Linked DNA regions of Homo sapiens. The protein of the gene in region 1 interacts with the protein of each later gene in a pairwise test. Each region holds a gene or a part of one and is shown on either strand. Other genes may lie near its edges.

What was found. The genes of interacting proteins can lie anywhere in the genome.
Region 2: the proteins of KAT14 (region 1) and DPPA4 interact in binary tests that used the Homo sapiens proteins (3 or more experiments, as listed by UniProt).

The regions. Positions count from the first base shown.
Region 1 is NC_000020.11:18,161,799-18,165,447, forward strand, and holds part of KAT14 (cysteine-rich protein 2-binding protein), read left to right. Parts: intron 1-21; coding exon of another isoform or gene 22-24; coding exon 25-441; intron 442-578; coding exon 579-1,147; intron 1,148-3,649. UniProt on the Homo sapiens protein: Component of the ATAC complex, a complex with histone acetyltransferase activity on histones H3 and H4. May function as a scaffold for the ATAC complex to promote ATAC complex stability. Has also weak histone acetyltransferase activity toward histone H4.
Region 2 is NC_000003.12:109,335,333-109,339,081, reverse strand, and holds the start of DPPA4 (developmental pluripotency-associated protein 4), read left to right. Parts: upstream 1-1,535; 5' UTR 1,536-1,564; coding exon 1,565-1,618; intron 1,619-2,374; exon of another isoform or gene 2,375-2,761; intron 2,762-3,749. UniProt on the Homo sapiens protein: May be involved in the maintenance of active epigenetic status of target genes. May inhibit differentiation of embryonic cells into a primitive ectoderm lineage.

The DNA.
Region 1 (3,649 bases):
CCTGTATTTATTCTTTCTTAGCAGCCTCAAAACCAACTTTAGATCCCATCATTACTGTTGAGGGACTTAGAAAACGAGCAAGTCGGAATCCTGTGGAATCTGCCATGGAATTAAAAGAGAAAAGGTCTCGAACTCAGGAAGCAAAAGACATTAGAAGAGCCCAGAAGGAGGCCGCTGGCTTTCTTGACAGGAGCACATCTTCTACCCCTGTAAAATTCATAAGCCGAGGCCGCAGGCCAGATGTGATTCTGGAAAAAGGCGAAGTGATTGACTTTTCCTCCTTGAGCTCCTCTGACCGCACCCCGCTGACAAGCCCATCTCCTTCTCCTTCTCTGGATTTCTCTGCCCCTGGTACACCTGCCTCTCATTCTGCCACACCTAGCTTGCTTTCAGAAGCAGATCTGATTCCAGATGTGATGCCCCCACAAGCCTTGTTTCATGGTAAGAGTTTGTTTGCTTTGCTCTTTTATTTTGGGTATGGGCCATGGTATAAATGTACAAGTTTTCACCCCGTGGGCTGTGTGCTCTGCATTTCTTCCTTCCTATGTCTTGATGACACTGTTTTGTACTCTGCACAGATGACGATGAGATGGAAGGCGATGGAGTCATAGACCCAGGGATGGAGTACGTCCCACCCCCTGCTGGGTCAGTAGCTTCTGGGCCAGTGGTTGGGGTCAGAAAGAAGGTCAGAGGCCCTGAACAGATAAAGCAGGAGGTAGAGAGTGAGGAGGAAAAACCCGACAGGATGGATATTGACAGTGAAGACACAGATTCAAACACATCTTTGCAAACAAGGGCTAGAGAAAAGAGGAAGCCTCAGCTGGAGAAGGACACAAAGCCGAAAGAGCCCAGGTATACTCCCGTGAGCATCTACGAGGAAAAGCTGCTGCTCAAGAGGCTGGAAGCTTGTCCCGGTGCTGTTGCCATGACTCCGGAAGCTCGGAGACTGAAACGCAAACTGATTGTCAGACAAGCGAAAAGGGATAGGGGATTACCACTTTTTGACTTGGATCAAGTTGTTAATGCTGCTCTTTTGTTAGTTGACGGGATTTATGGAGCCAAAGAAGGAGGAATTTCCAGACTTCCAGCTGGACAAGCCACGTACAGAACCACCTGTCAGGACTTCAGAATCCTTGACCGATACCAGGTGAATGCAAGCACTTGCTGTAAAGCCCTTGGGGGCAGGAGTGGAGGTGGGGCAGGCAGCACTAGGCATTGGACATGGTTATGCTGTGACCTTTTAAATCCTGAGTAATTTGGGAAGAGAAAAGTAAAGTGCAAGGGAAAAAAATACAAAAATCGCTGGGCTTTATTTTTCAGAATTGTTCATTGTAAGTACACCTGAATACATCTGAGTTTTTCTTTTCCTTTAGGCATTCAAACATAACCTATAAGTTTTCTTCATCTGTCTCTCTTGTCTCTCTCTCTCTGAGGATAGATATGCATGGTTTGTGTCGTAGCTTTGACAAATTTGTTGAGGCCATGACGGTGTCTCTGACACTGTGTTGCAGAGGATCTGAAGGTGTGTAGACATCTGCGAAGGACAACATGAAGAAATAGCAGCCAAGGGATCAGTGTGGTATCAGTGTTGCTCAAAGGATGGTCGGTGGAACCCAAATTTTGTGGATGCTTCTGGGAACAATTAATTCCACTTAGAACTACCTGTATATACTCTCCCACTGGGAGGAACAAGAGGCCTTATTCCCTTTATCTTTGCTAGCACTTGACACTAACCAGCCTTTAAGTTTTGCTAATTGGCTGGCTGTAAAGTGAAATCTTGTTTTTTATTTATATTTCTTTGGTTACAGGTGAGGTTAAATTTCCTGGTTGTTTCTTTGTGAATTGCCTGTTTGGAGTCTGCATGTTTTTCTCTCTTCTCTGGAAGCTAGTGGGATCTGCTCTTCATTGCTGGTGTTCTGGTATTATTCAGTGATGTGCCGTATGTAGGGCTTATGTCTTTCCTTGTGCTGGACATGTGGTGTGTGGGCCCTTTCAATTTGAAACTTTCTTTCCTGAGTATGGAAAAGTCTTGATTTCCTATCTTCTATTTTTTCTGTTCTCTCATTTTAGAACTCCCCATTATTTGGATATTGGACCCTGTAGATTAAAAGTTGGCAAACTTTATCTGTAAAGAAATAAGTATTTCTGCCAGATAGTAATTATTTTAGGCTTTGCCGGCCACAAAATCTCATTCGGAACTCTTCAACTCTGCTGTTGTGATTGGAGAGCCGTAGTGAATGAGTGTGGCTGTGTTCCAGTAAAACTTTATCTACTAAAATGGGCAGTGGACTGGATTTAGCCTGGGGGCTATAGTTTACCAAGATCCCTACTCCAGATAGATCCTCTTTTCTTTTTTTTCCTAATTCCCATCTTTCCTGGGAAGCACAGTATTAACTGGCCTGCCTACCAGGAGCCAAGTCGGGAGGGCCCAGGAGCCCATCGTTTAGGAGGTAAACTGACTCTCCCTGTCTTCAGTACAGTACTCCCACCCTTGGCTTCCTGTGTCCAGAATCTCCCTCTTGAGCCTCTCCAGTCTTCTGCCCGTGGAGGGAAAGATCATTTCCTAGATGTGGGCAGTATAATTACTATAGGGGTATAATTGGAGCCTTTAACCTCTTAAAGAGCCTCACAATCCATAGTCATACCCCCCAGGCTCTAAGCCTGATGCCTTAGGTGACTACACTTCCCTGAGGCTGTGTTTTGTAAATCACCCTGCTTAGCTTCACCACTGGCTTAGGTATTGGCTTTCTTTGGTCTGTTAAGTCATTTGCTGCTTGTTCATATGCTTTTGTTAGTCATCTATTCACTTGTTCTTGTTCTTTTTTTTTTTTTTTTTGAGACATGGTCTCTCTCTGTCACGCAGGTTGGAATGTAGTGGCACAACCACAGCTCATTGCAGCCCCGAACTCTCAGGCTCAAGCAATTCTCCCACCTCAGCTTCCCAAGTAGCTGGTACTATAGGCACACACTACCACACTCAGCTAATTTTTTTTTTAATTTTTATTTTTAGTAGAGACAGGGTCCTACTATCTTGCCCAGACTGATCTCAAACTCCTGGGCTCGAGTGATCGCCTCAGCCTCCCAAAGTGCTGGGATTACAGGCATGAGCCATTGCGCCTGGCCAATATTCACCTGTTCTTTGTTCTTATTCTTGTGGGCCTGTCTGTTTACTGCCTATACTTAATTTTTTAAATTGTAAGATGTGTCATACAGATAGAAGGCAGCATAGAAATATGGTATAATTTAGATATTAGTAAAATAAATGCCCATGTATTCATCTCCTGGATAAAGAGTGTTGTAAACACCTTAGAAGTCTCCTGTGTACTTTCTGTTCCCCTCAGAGGAAGCCACTTTGACTTACAGTGTTAATTATTCTTTTGCTTTTTAAATGTGTATGTCTCTAAATGATATACTTTTCGTTTAAAAAAATACTGAGTAGCAAGCATAAATCTAGCTGTGTAAGTAAATTGCCACTATTAGATGAAGTTTCCTGGAGAAGATAAGCTAAATAGTCATTCTGGGTCATTGTTGTGGACTGAATTGTGTCCCCCTTAAGCATATGTTGAAGTCCCAACCCTGGTACCTATGAATGCAGCCTTATCTGGAAATAGGCCCTTTGCAAATATAATTAGCCAAGACCACCAAGGAT
Region 2 (3,749 bases), on another chromosome or scaffold:
GTAGCTGGGATTACAGGCACGCACCATGCCCGGCTAATTTTTGCATTTTTAGTAGAGAAGGGGTTCTGCCATTGTTGGCCAGGCTGGTCTCAAAACTCCTGAACTCAAGTGACCTGCCCACCTCAGCCCCCCAAAGTGCTGAGATTACAGGCGTGAGCCACCATGCCCAGCCCAGAACTCCAGTTATTCTGAATGTTACGTTCAATTACACTGACAAAAGAAAGATGATTCAGTTATACACTTTATACACAAACCTTAATTAGAAAGTCCTACTGGTGGTTACCAAAGGCTGTGGTAAAGAATTGTTAAATCAAAGCCCTAATATCTCCCAGATGACCTCAACTCACCTGGTTTCCTCTTTGCCGCCTTGGGGGTTGCCCAGTCCACAACCTGCACTTCCTTCTCTATTCCTGGGCTCCGTTTACTTACTTTTTCTGTCCGTGGATTTCTAGCCTGTGAGCAGATTACTAACACCATTTGGATAAAGACAGTCTCTTATTTATCATTTTAGGACAAGCAATGAGATGTAGGAAAAAAAAACAACAAAGTAAACCAAAGAACAAAAGAGACTTTGGACCCTGACAAGGGAGGGTTTCAGTCGCACAGCCACTGCTTCCTTCACTTCACATCTCTTGACAATCTGACAGGGAGCACTGATCTGAGGAAAGATTTTTCAAATTATTTTAAGGAGAAAAACTTGAACTTCTTTGGGAGTCAGTAGGTTAGGGGTTCACTTACTGTGCTATTGAAAAAGTTACCAATAAAAATTTATACCAACTTTAGTCATATATAAAATGGGGAACAATAATGACTGAATTTAAAACTCACAATTTGAGATATAAAAAAATACTCGGGCGGGGAGTGGTGGCTCACGCCTGTAATCCCAACACTTTGGGAGGACAAGGCTGGAGAATTACTTGAGGGCAGGAGTTCGAGACCAGCCAGGTCAAAATAGCCAGACCCCCCCACTTGCCCTCTACAAAATAAATAACAAATACTCTATAGACTTTAAAAGCTACTATTATTAGTTCGTTGGCAGATGAAAAGATGCTCGGTATTAGTACAGAGAAACCTGGAGTTTTAGTTGGTTGAGTAACTTACTTAGGAAATGGAATGTATTTGGTACGAGAAAATAGCTTTCTTCAAGCCGCCAGTCTGGTCTCTGAAGTCTACTGTTGCCACAAGTTCCATTATTAAATCCCTTCACACATCCTGCTCAAGTCTCTGGCCACTGTTTTTTTGTTTTTTGTTTTTTGTTTTTTTTCCCCGTAGAATCGTTCTGAAGGAGTGCTCAATCTCCCAATGTCTCCGGAACCATACTTTGGATAATTACATTTAAAGTGAACAGAAAAGGGCCAGGAATAGTATTAGTAATTCAACCCAGACAAAAGTCACCCCATGAATAAGAAAGAATGCAATTTTAGCATTTACAAATTGTGGGGGAGGGAACAGAAGGGGAGAAGAAAAGAAGAGGTGAGGTGGAGAGAAAAAGGGTCTTCGGGCGGCAGGAAGTGGGAGGAGACTTTGCAAATAGCAATCTTGGGGCAGGGGCCATTTTGGAAGCATGTTGCGAGGCTCCGCTTCTTCTACAAGTATGGAGAAGGCAAAAGGCAAGGAGGTCAGTACAGTTTTAGTGGATTTGTTTTCTGTCTGTCTTTGTGTTTCTGTCTTCCCTGGGCACTCCTGATTTTTCCTTTAAGGAGAAAAGAATGTGCCTTCGAATTTTCTCCTCTTGACTTTTTTTTTTTTTATTTTAAGAGTAAGGCCCAAGAATATGATTGCAGCCTGGTATATTGGAGTGAGCAGACAAGTAAGAAATGAGGTTTTCTAGGTTTAGTTGAGGAGGTTGAGTGTGTCAAAAGATGGGGAAAAAAAAAAAAGAGGCCGGGCGCGGTGGCTCACGCCTGTAATCCCAGCACTTTGGGCAGCCGAGGCGGGCGGATCACCTGAGGTCGGGAGTTCGAGACCAGCCTGACCAAAATGGAGAAACCCCGTCTCTACTAAAAGTACAAAATTAGCCAGGTGTGGTGGCGCACACCTGTAATCCCAGCTACTCGGGAGGCTGAGGCAGGAGAATCGCTTGAACCCGGGAGTCGGGGGTTGCGGTGAGCCGAGATCGCCCCATTGCACCCCCAGCTTGGGCAACCAGAGCGAAACTCCACCTCAAAAGAAAAAGTTAAAAAATTAGGTTTTCAGGTTTGTGTTTTGGAACAGGGTTTCACTTTTGTCTCCCTGGCTGGAGTGCAGTGGCACCATCACTATTCACTGTAACCGCCCAGGCTCAAACGATCCTCCCACCTCGGCTTACCAAAGTGCTACTGGGACTGCAGGCGCCCGCCGCTGCTCCCGGCCCGGGTTTTCTGTTTTGAAGAGGTGCTTAGTCCTGTCAGAAAGAACTAACTGAATATGGGGGCTAGAGGGAAATGGTAACAGGAGAAAAGGGTGTTAAAGGAAAGATTTTAGGAAGAGGTAATTGAGCTGAGTTTGGAAAAGAATGAAACCCCTTAATTTCCTTTAGACGGACACAGATCCTAAACCGAGGGTGCTGAGAATGAATTCGTCCCCTTTTCCCAGCGTCCTTAGGACCTAGGAGTAATCAGAAGCCAGACATTGGGAACAATGCAGACAGAAACTGAAGGAAGAGAGGATTTAAGACGTTGCACAGGCACTGAACGGCCATATCCGAGCGCTCTCAGGTCCTCTTGACTTGAACTGGGTCATTTTTAACTGTCTCGGTTTTAAGTCTTTTGTGAGGTCCAAAGTGAGTACTTTTTGTAAGGTTTATGCAAATATAAATTTCAAATCAAAATGTAGAACTGCTATAGAGATGTAAAAATGCCATACAAATGTTAATTTGTCCAGTAATCCACCCTGAAAGTGAAGAAAAGGATTTAGATTTAGGAGAAATTTTATTATATTAATTTTTTTTTTTTAATGAGTTTGACTCTGTCGCCCAGAGTGGTGTGCAGTAGCCGATCTCGGCTCACTGCAGCCTCTGCTTCCCGGGTTCAAGCGATTCTCCTGACTCAGCCTCTCGATTAGCTGGGATTGCAGGCACGCACCACCACGCCCAGGTAGTTTTTGTATTTTTGGTAGTGACTGAGTTTCGATATGTTAGCCAGGCTGGTCTCGAACTCCTGACCTCAATCGGTCAGCCCACCTCGGCCTCCCAAAGTGCCGGGATTACAGGCGTGAGCCACGGAGCCTAGCCTTTATATTTAAATTTTAATTTATATCTAATGTACCCCTAATCTGTGTCTTTATGTTACCTCTGATTCTCAGCTTCTGTGTCTGAGAAGTAATTGTTGCCAGATTGCTATGAGAATTAAATGAATGAAAAAAGGAAGGCCAAGGCCAGGCACAGTGGCACACGCCTGTAATCCCAGCACTTTGGGAGGCTGAGGTGGGCGGATCACTTGAGGCCAGGAGTTTGAGACCAGCCTGGCCAACATGGTGAAACCCCCATCTCTACTAAAAATAGAAAAATTCAGCCGGGTGTGGTGGCAGGCGCCTGTAATTCCAGCTAGTGGGGAGGCTGAGGCAGAGAATTGCTTAAACCGGGGAGATGGAAGTTGCAGTGAGCCGAGATTGGACCACTGCACTACAGCCGGGGTGACAGAGCGAGACTCCTCTCAGAGAAAAAGAAAATAGGGAACCCTTGGGCGCAGTGGCTCGCGCCTTTAATCCCAACTCTTTGGGGAGCCAAGGCGGGAAGATTGCTTGAGGCTAGAAGATTGAGATCAGTGGGG